Homo sapiens: one gene and its partner. The protein of the gene in region 1 interacts with the protein of each later gene in a pairwise test. Each region holds a gene or a part of one and is shown on either strand. Other genes may lie near its edges.

Evidence for each region. The genes of interacting proteins can lie anywhere in the genome.
Region 2: the proteins of MYO5B (region 1) and RAB11B interact in binary tests that used the Homo sapiens proteins (3 or more experiments, as listed by UniProt).

Annotation. Positions count from the first base shown.
Region 1 is NC_000018.10:50,193,384-50,197,129, forward strand, and holds the start of MYO5B (unconventional myosin-Vb), read right to left. Parts: upstream 1,765-3,746; 5' UTR 1,411-1,764; coding exon 1,384-1,410; intron 1-1,383. UniProt on the Homo sapiens protein: May be involved in vesicular trafficking via its association with the CART complex. The CART complex is necessary for efficient transferrin receptor recycling but not for EGFR degradation.
Region 2 is NC_000019.10:8,400,344-8,404,089, forward strand, and holds part of RAB11B (ras-related protein Rab-11B), read left to right. Parts: intron 1-1,742; coding exon 1,743-1,936; intron 1,937-2,141; coding exon 2,142-2,222; intron 2,223-3,069; coding exon 3,070-3,215; 3' UTR 3,216-3,746. UniProt on the Homo sapiens protein: The small GTPases Rab are key regulators of intracellular membrane trafficking, from the formation of transport vesicles to their fusion with membranes.

The DNA of each region.
Region 1 (3,746 bases):
GTGACAGCCTCCGCGGCCACCTTCCTGAGCATGAACTCATCCCGGCCCTGCTCCCCTCCAGGAGGAATGGGAGAGTTGAATAATTCCTCAAACTTAGAAGGGTGGCCAGCCCACGGAGCCGAAGGGCTCCCACATGGGCTAGACAGCCGCGTGTGATCGCCAGGTAAGGACGCGGAAGTGACTGTTCCTACCCAGCCCAGACCTGTTGGCCCGGGCGGGTGTCCCGGGAATCGCATACCCACGCAACGCGCGTGGACACCACACGCACACACAACTCTGCATGGAGGCGTGTGCATAGGCACTGTTAAACGTGTTTTGGCCACCCAAGAAGACGAACAGGAAAACCAGGCATTGGACTATCCAAAACTTGTTTTCTTAAAGGTGCATAGGGCACATGTGAAGAAAAGGCCTTTGCCCCTCTCACTACTGACTCCAGGTTGAAACTCGAGGGGTCCCGGGCGGCTGCAGCGCTGCCGCGAGCTCCCCTGGAAGCGGTGGCTTGTCCCTAACTTTAACCACAGCAACTGCTGCGGAACGCGGGCGTCTCCGCCCGGGCTGCACCTGTTCCCGATTCGGAGCACCCAGCCTCACACATCCCTTCTGACCTTGAAGGCATCCTGAAACTCACACCCTGCTCCCGGTTCGACTTTACTCCAACCCCCTCCCCGCAGTCACTGAAGCCCTCTTTGTACCAAAGAGGCCGCGTCAAAACATCCATCCCCAGCAAATTCACAATGCTCTTCCCTGGGGTCTCCGGAGATAACGGCGCACCCCTCTACCCATTGCTTACCCTCACTCCATCCAGCCGCCGCGCCCTCACGCCAGGTTGTCTCCTCCCTCTCCACCAAGTCCAGAACCCCCACCTCTCCCAAGTCCAGGGTTCCCTGTTGTGGGTATGCGGGAGGAAAGGACGCCTCGGAGGCGCGCCCTCGAGAGCCGGCGCCGCAGAGCCCCTGGGGTGGGGTCCACGGCGGGGACAGGGGACAGCAGCGGGAGCACCGCGGGGGCCCGTCCCGCGCACGGCGCTCAGAGCTGGCAGGGTCGCCCTGCCGTTCGGGGAACTCGGTTGGAGCCGAGCCCAGGCAACGAAAGTGAGGGGCGCGGCGGGGAGGGGGCGACAGCCCTGGCTTGGTGCTGAGCCGTGGCGCTGCGGAACCTCTAGGAGCCGGGTGGCCGGTCAGTGCGGGCGTTCCCGGAACCGCCAAACTTTCTCCGCCAACCGAAGTTAGGGACTCCGAGGACAGTGACGAGGAGGACACCGCGGAGGGGGGTCTCCCGTCACCTCCCGCCTCCAGTAGCCGAGGGAGAAGGCGACCCTGAGTACTAGGTGGCCCCGAGCGCGCCACCCCGGCCCCGGGGCGCCTCCCTCGCGGCCGCGCTCACCTGGCTGTAGAGCTCGCCCACCGACATGGCCCGGGCCGGGCGGGGCTCGGGCCCCGGCTCCTGGCTGCCCCGCGGCTCTCAGTCCGCGGCTGGCCCGCCTGGCGCCATGTTCCCGGGCTGGCCTGGAGTTTCTCGATCTTCTCGCTCTTCTCCGACCTGCCCCGCCGGCTTCCCGCAGGCGCCGCGGCCGGCTCGCTCCCGGCGGCGCGACCTTTACTCCCGCCGCGGCGGCGCAGCTACGGCCGGACAGGAGTTGCGAGCGCCGGGGGAGGAGGCCGCGCCGCACCACTCCCCTCCCAGGTGTGGGGAGGAGGCGAGGGCCGGCGAGGAGGGAGGACCCGCTCGCGTCAGAGCGGACGGCCCGTGCGCCGCCGCGCCTCTGAGCCCTGCCGGTGCCCGGCCCGACGCGCCCTCCCGCGCCCCCGCTGCCACCTGGGCCTCCGGGCCGGGGGCGGGGCGCTCAGAGAGGAGCTCCGGGACCGGCGCGGGCCGCCCCCTGCTGGACGCCGCGCGCGCGCAGGCACAGGTGCGCCCCGGCGCCCGCACCTGCCCTGCCGCGCTCCGCTTCCACCCGCACCGGGCCCCGCGGAGTCCGGCATGAACGCGGTGCAGACAAGAAAAGGGAAGAGGAACTAACCAGAGAGGGGGGAAAAAAGAGAAGCGTCTATGGCTGGAAGGCCCCAGACATTGCCCTCGATTTTACCTGGCTGTATTCAGCGCTTTCATGATTAAAATTCAGTTACTCGTAGATCGTTATTAAGGCGACCTGGATATACATACACCAGGGATCTTCTCCTTCAAACTGAACTCTCTGCGCGGAAATCCTTGTCAGTAAAGTGGGAGTCGTAACTCCTTCTGTACAAATATTGTCCACTTTCGCCCACAGCCTCCAAGGAGACTCCAGGCCACTCATCTCAGAGGGCTTCTGCTTTTCCGGGAAGTCTCACGTTCTCCCAACCCCCGTCTCGTCTACATGCAGACTCCGGGTCCTTTTGCCACTCACTACCTCGTTTATTTGTGTTCCCTCTCTGACCATGGCACTTGGCTGCCTGCAGCAACTTCAGCTCCTCTCCTACTTCCAGTGAAAAGTAGAAATTTCAACCAAGAAAAAAAAAAAAAAACTGCCAGAAGTCTGTGGAGGGAGACGAGGGGCTGTCAGAGGAGACACTCCCTTCTGAAGCTGACATCTGTCCCTGACCCAGGGGTGGCCCCTGAAAAGTGGTTCTCAACCGGAAGATATATCTGTACCAGCCGGGGCAGTTGTTCAAGAGCCCCAGAAGGTGATTCTCAGAGGCATCCCACCTGGAACTCAAGATCCCGTTGTAATTCACCTGTGCAGGCCTTCCCATGGGCACCTCCACAATGAGAGTCACATGGGGAGCTTTAAGCGTTCCAAGGAAGAGGCCCCAACCCAAGGAATTCTGATATAATGAAGGATGGGACCTGGGTATCCCAATTTTTAAAGCTCCTCTGAAAGTCTAAAGGATGGTACTTCCAGGGTGACAAATGCATTGACCAAAGCTTGGGCGGCTCTCATTGGACCTAAAAATGGAACTCTTCACATCAGTGGCAAGAGCAGAAAGGGATTTTTTTCTCTTCCTCAAAAGTTTTTCTGCATATTTCCCTTCCCCGGATTCCTGTAGCTCTTAAAGTGTGTCCCCACCCCCCACGCCCACCATCAGCATCACCTGGTAACTGTTAGAAATACAAGTTATTGGGCTCCACTGCAGACCTACTGAACCATAAACTCTGGTGTGGGGCCAGTACTCATTGTTCTTTCTGCCTCCAGGTGATTCTCCCCTTTTTGAATAAGAAAGTCATCAGTCCTGCCTAGATCCTGGCCTCTTCCTCCACCACCATTAGTGGTCCCATCTCTCTACCAGCAACTCTTCCTCTCTCCACTGGCCCCTGGCTTTTTGTGTTTTCCTCTCCTGCTAAACTTCTTAAAGCAGTAGCTTCACTTATTTAGCTATCTCCACTTACGCCCAGTACCTCCTTAATTCTCTGATTCTCAACACTTTATGCACATCAGAATCACTTTTGAAACAAGTGGATGTCTGGTTCCCACTCCCAGAAATTCTGATTTAACTTGTCTGGGGGGTGTTGCCCTGGGTGAAAGGATTCTGAAGAGCTCCCAGATGGTTCTAATGGCAGCCAAGTTTAAGAGCTGCTGTTCTGGCCGGGTGTGGTGGCTCATGCCTATAATCCCAGCACTTCGGGAGGCCAATGTGGGCCGATCACTTGAAGTCAGGAGTTCAAGACCAGCCTGGCTAACATGGTGAAACCCCGTCTCTACTAAAAGTACAAAAATTAGCTGGGCGTGGTGGCGCATGCCTGTAATCCTAGCTACTTGGAAGGCTGAG
Region 2 (3,746 bases), on another chromosome or scaffold:
TTCCTCCTCCCTCAGCTTCCCTCCTCACTGGTGCCCACACCTGGTCCCACACGCCTCCTGTCCTCCCACCTGGGCCTGGCCTCCATTCCCTGCAAAGGCTTCCCAGCCATCAGGACCCACTCAGCTGCCTTTTTCTGGACCCCTCCCAAGCCCCCCAGCCATTCCCACCACCGTCTTGAGATCCTCTGGGCTCCCTCCCATCTCCTTCATCCCTCAGGTACATCTGTCTCTCTGTCACCTCCTCTTGTTTTTTTTTTTTTGAGATGGAGTTTCACTCTTGTCGCCCAGGCTGGAGTGCGATGGCACGATCTCGGCTCACTGCAACCTCCGCCTCCTGGGTTCAAGCGATTCTCCTGCCTCAGCCTCCCAAGTAGCTGGGATTATAGGCACATGCCGCCATACCAGGCTAATTTTGTATTTTTAGTAGAGATGGGGTTTCTCCACATTGGTCAGGCTGGTCTCAAACTCCCGCCCTCAGGTGATCCACCCTCTCGGCTTCCCAAAGTGCTGAGATTACAGGTGGCGTGAGCCACCGTGCCTGGCTGTCGCCTCCTCTTTTTTGGAGACAGACAGGGTCTTGCTCTGTCGCCCAGGCTGGAGTGCAGTGCCACAATTGCAGCTCACTGCCCCCTTGACCTCCCAGGCTCAAGCGATTCTCCTGCCTCAGCCTCCTGAGTAGCTGGGGCTACAGGCCTGTGCCACCATGCCTGGCTAATTTAATTAATTAATTTATTTATTTTTTAGTTTTAGTTTTTGAGACAGAGTCTCACTCTGTCGCCCAGGCTGGAGTGCAGTGGCGCAGTCTCAGCTCACTGCAAGCTCTGCCTCCCAGGTTCACGCCATTCTCCTGCCTCAGCCTCCTGAGCAGCTGGGACTACAGGCGCCCACCACCACGCCTGGCTAATTTTTTGTATTTTTAGTAGAGATGGGGTTTCACCGCATTAGCCAGGATGGTCTCGATCTCCTGACCTCATGATCTGCCCGCCTCGGCCTCCCAAAGTGCTGGGATTACAGGCGTGAGCGACCCTGCCTGGCCTATTTATTTATTTTTTTGAGATAGAGTCTCACTCTGTCATCCAGACTGAAGTGCAGTGTCACAATCTCGGCTCACTGCAACCTCCGCCCCCCGCCCCCCAGGGTTCAAGCAATTCTCCTGCCTTAGCCTCCCGAGTAGCTGGGATTACAGGCGCCTGCCACCACGCCTGGCTAATTTTTGTATTTTTAGTAGAGATGGGGTTTCACCATCTTGGCCAGGCTGATCTTGAATTCCTGACCTCGTGATCCACCTGCCTCGGCTTCCCAAAGTGCTGGGATTACAGGCATGAGCCACGACCCCCGGCCAATTTTTGTGTTTTTCTAGTAGAGATGGGGTATCGCCATGTTGCCCAGGCTGGTCTGAAACTCCCAGCCTCAAGTGATCCACCCGCCTCAGCCTCCCAAAGTGCTGGGATTACAGGCATGAGCCACCATGCCCAGCCCCTTCTTCCCTTTTTTTGATGACCTCACGGTATCTTCTATTTCCAGCTCCCAAACTCCCTCCTCAGACCCCCACATTTCAGAGCTGGATCCAGGGAGCAGCGCTGGGGCCTCCAGACACACACCCTTCCCTTGAGGCCACAATGACTGCCCCTTGGCTCGGCCCTGGACGACCCACCCTGGGCGTGATGTGTGCTGTTATCCCGTGAGGCTGCCGCTGCCCATGGTTGTCCTCCAGAGAGGCTCATGGGCCCCTGACCCTGCAGGTACTACCGTGGTGCAGTGGGCGCCCTGCTGGTGTACGACATCGCCAAGCACCTGACCTATGAGAACGTGGAGCGCTGGCTGAAGGAGCTGCGGGACCACGCAGACAGCAACATCGTCATCATGCTGGTGGGCAACAAGAGTGACCTGCGCCACCTGCGGGCTGTGCCCACTGACGAGGCCCGCGCCTTCGCAGGTGAGCAGACGGAGACGCAGGCATCAGAGAGGTGTCTGGAAGGCAGGAGGCCCCTCACAGTGTTGGGGCCCTGGCCACAGCCCTGGCTTCCCTTCCCTGAGGAGTGGCCTTGGGATGGGCCAGGTGGGTGGGCGGGGTCCCTGAGAGCATGTGGGAGCCTGTCACCCTGCCTCCCCACTCACCTAGGCAGTATTCTTTGTTCCAGAAAAGAACAACTTGTCCTTCATCGAGACCTCAGCCTTGGATTCCACTAACGTAGAGGAAGCATTCAAGAACATCCTCACAGGTGGCCGGGGACCAGATGGGTGTGGGTAGGGCACCAGCCAGGCAGGGTGGAACACGGCCTCTGAACCTTCGCTTGTTTTGTTCGTTTGCTTGTTTTTTTCTTTTTTTTGTCGGGGCAGGATGGATTTTTGCTCTTTGCCCAGGCTGGAGTGTGGTGGCTCGATCTCAGCTTACTGCAACCTCCGCCTTCCAGGTTCAGGCAATTCTCCTGCCTCAGCCTCCCGAGTAGCTGGGATTACAGGTGCCTGCCACCACACCCGCTAATTTTTGTAATTTTTAGTAGAGACAGGATTTCACAATGTTGTCCAGGTTGATCTCGAACTCCTGGGCTCAAGTGATCCTCCTGCCTCAGCCTCCCAAAGTGCTGGGATTACAGGCGTGAGCCACTGCACCTGGCCTGTTTGATTTTTTTCCACCACCACCCCTAACCTTTGCTTTTTAAACCTGCCGGTCCACCTGGACACTTCACAGGGTCAGACCAGGTCTAGCCCTTGCTGGCACTGGGGACACAGAGACCCCCTGGCCCCAGTTCCTGGGGATGGGCCCTGCCTTAACTCTTGGCGCTGCGGGGAGGCGGGTAGCCTCAGGGACCTGGAGCCTTTTGGCTTCTGGGAGTTTACCTCTGAGGGAGGAGGGCGCTTCTGATCTTAGGGAGCGAGAGGCCGGGGCTGGCTGTGACCAGATGTGGGTCCTGGCTGGGTGCGCAGCCCCTGTCCTTGTTACCCCTGATGTGATGGGGGCGCTGTGGGGGTCTGGAGAGGGCCTCTGGAGTCCTGCAGGGAGGGGTTCCCCTCGGCAGGCAGGGCACGTGCTGGCTCACCCCACGTCCCCCTGTACCCCCTTTGCAGAGATCTACCGCATCGTGTCACAGAAACAGATCGCAGACCGCGCTGCCCACGACGAGTCCCCGGGGAACAACGTGGTGGACATCAGCGTGCCGCCCACCACGGACGGACAGAAGCCCAACAAGCTGCAGTGCTGCCAGAACCTGTGACCCCTGCGCCTCCACCCAGCGTGCGTGCACGTCCTCCGCCCGCCCCCGCCACGGTATCCTCTGGCCCCTCCCTGCTGTCCCTCTGTGGCCGGCTCGTTCCAGCCCTCCCAGTGAGCTCTGCACGGCCGGGCCGGGGCCCAGGAAGGACAGGAGCCAGTGCTACCCCGTCCTGCCCGGGGAAAAGCTAGAAGCCCCGGTTTGCTGCACCCATGAAACTCGGGTCCCCACAGCGTCTTGGCGGGGTGGGGAGGGCGGCAGGATGGACGGGGCTGGCCAGAGGCGAGGAGGACGGGCGGACGGCGCCGCCTTCTCCCCTTTTCCTTGGCCGACTCTAGGGAGCGATTGCCTCCCTCCCTCCGTGACCGGGTGGCCCAGCCAGCCCGTCGTCCCCACCCAGAACCGTGCTCTGGGCCAAAGCCCGAAGAACCAGGCAGCGGGGGCCGGGGCAGGCGGACCCCCCGGGCTCTCAGCGCCCACCCGCTCCTCCGCACACAGCAGCTCGCACAGGCCTCCCACCTCTGCCTGTTGATT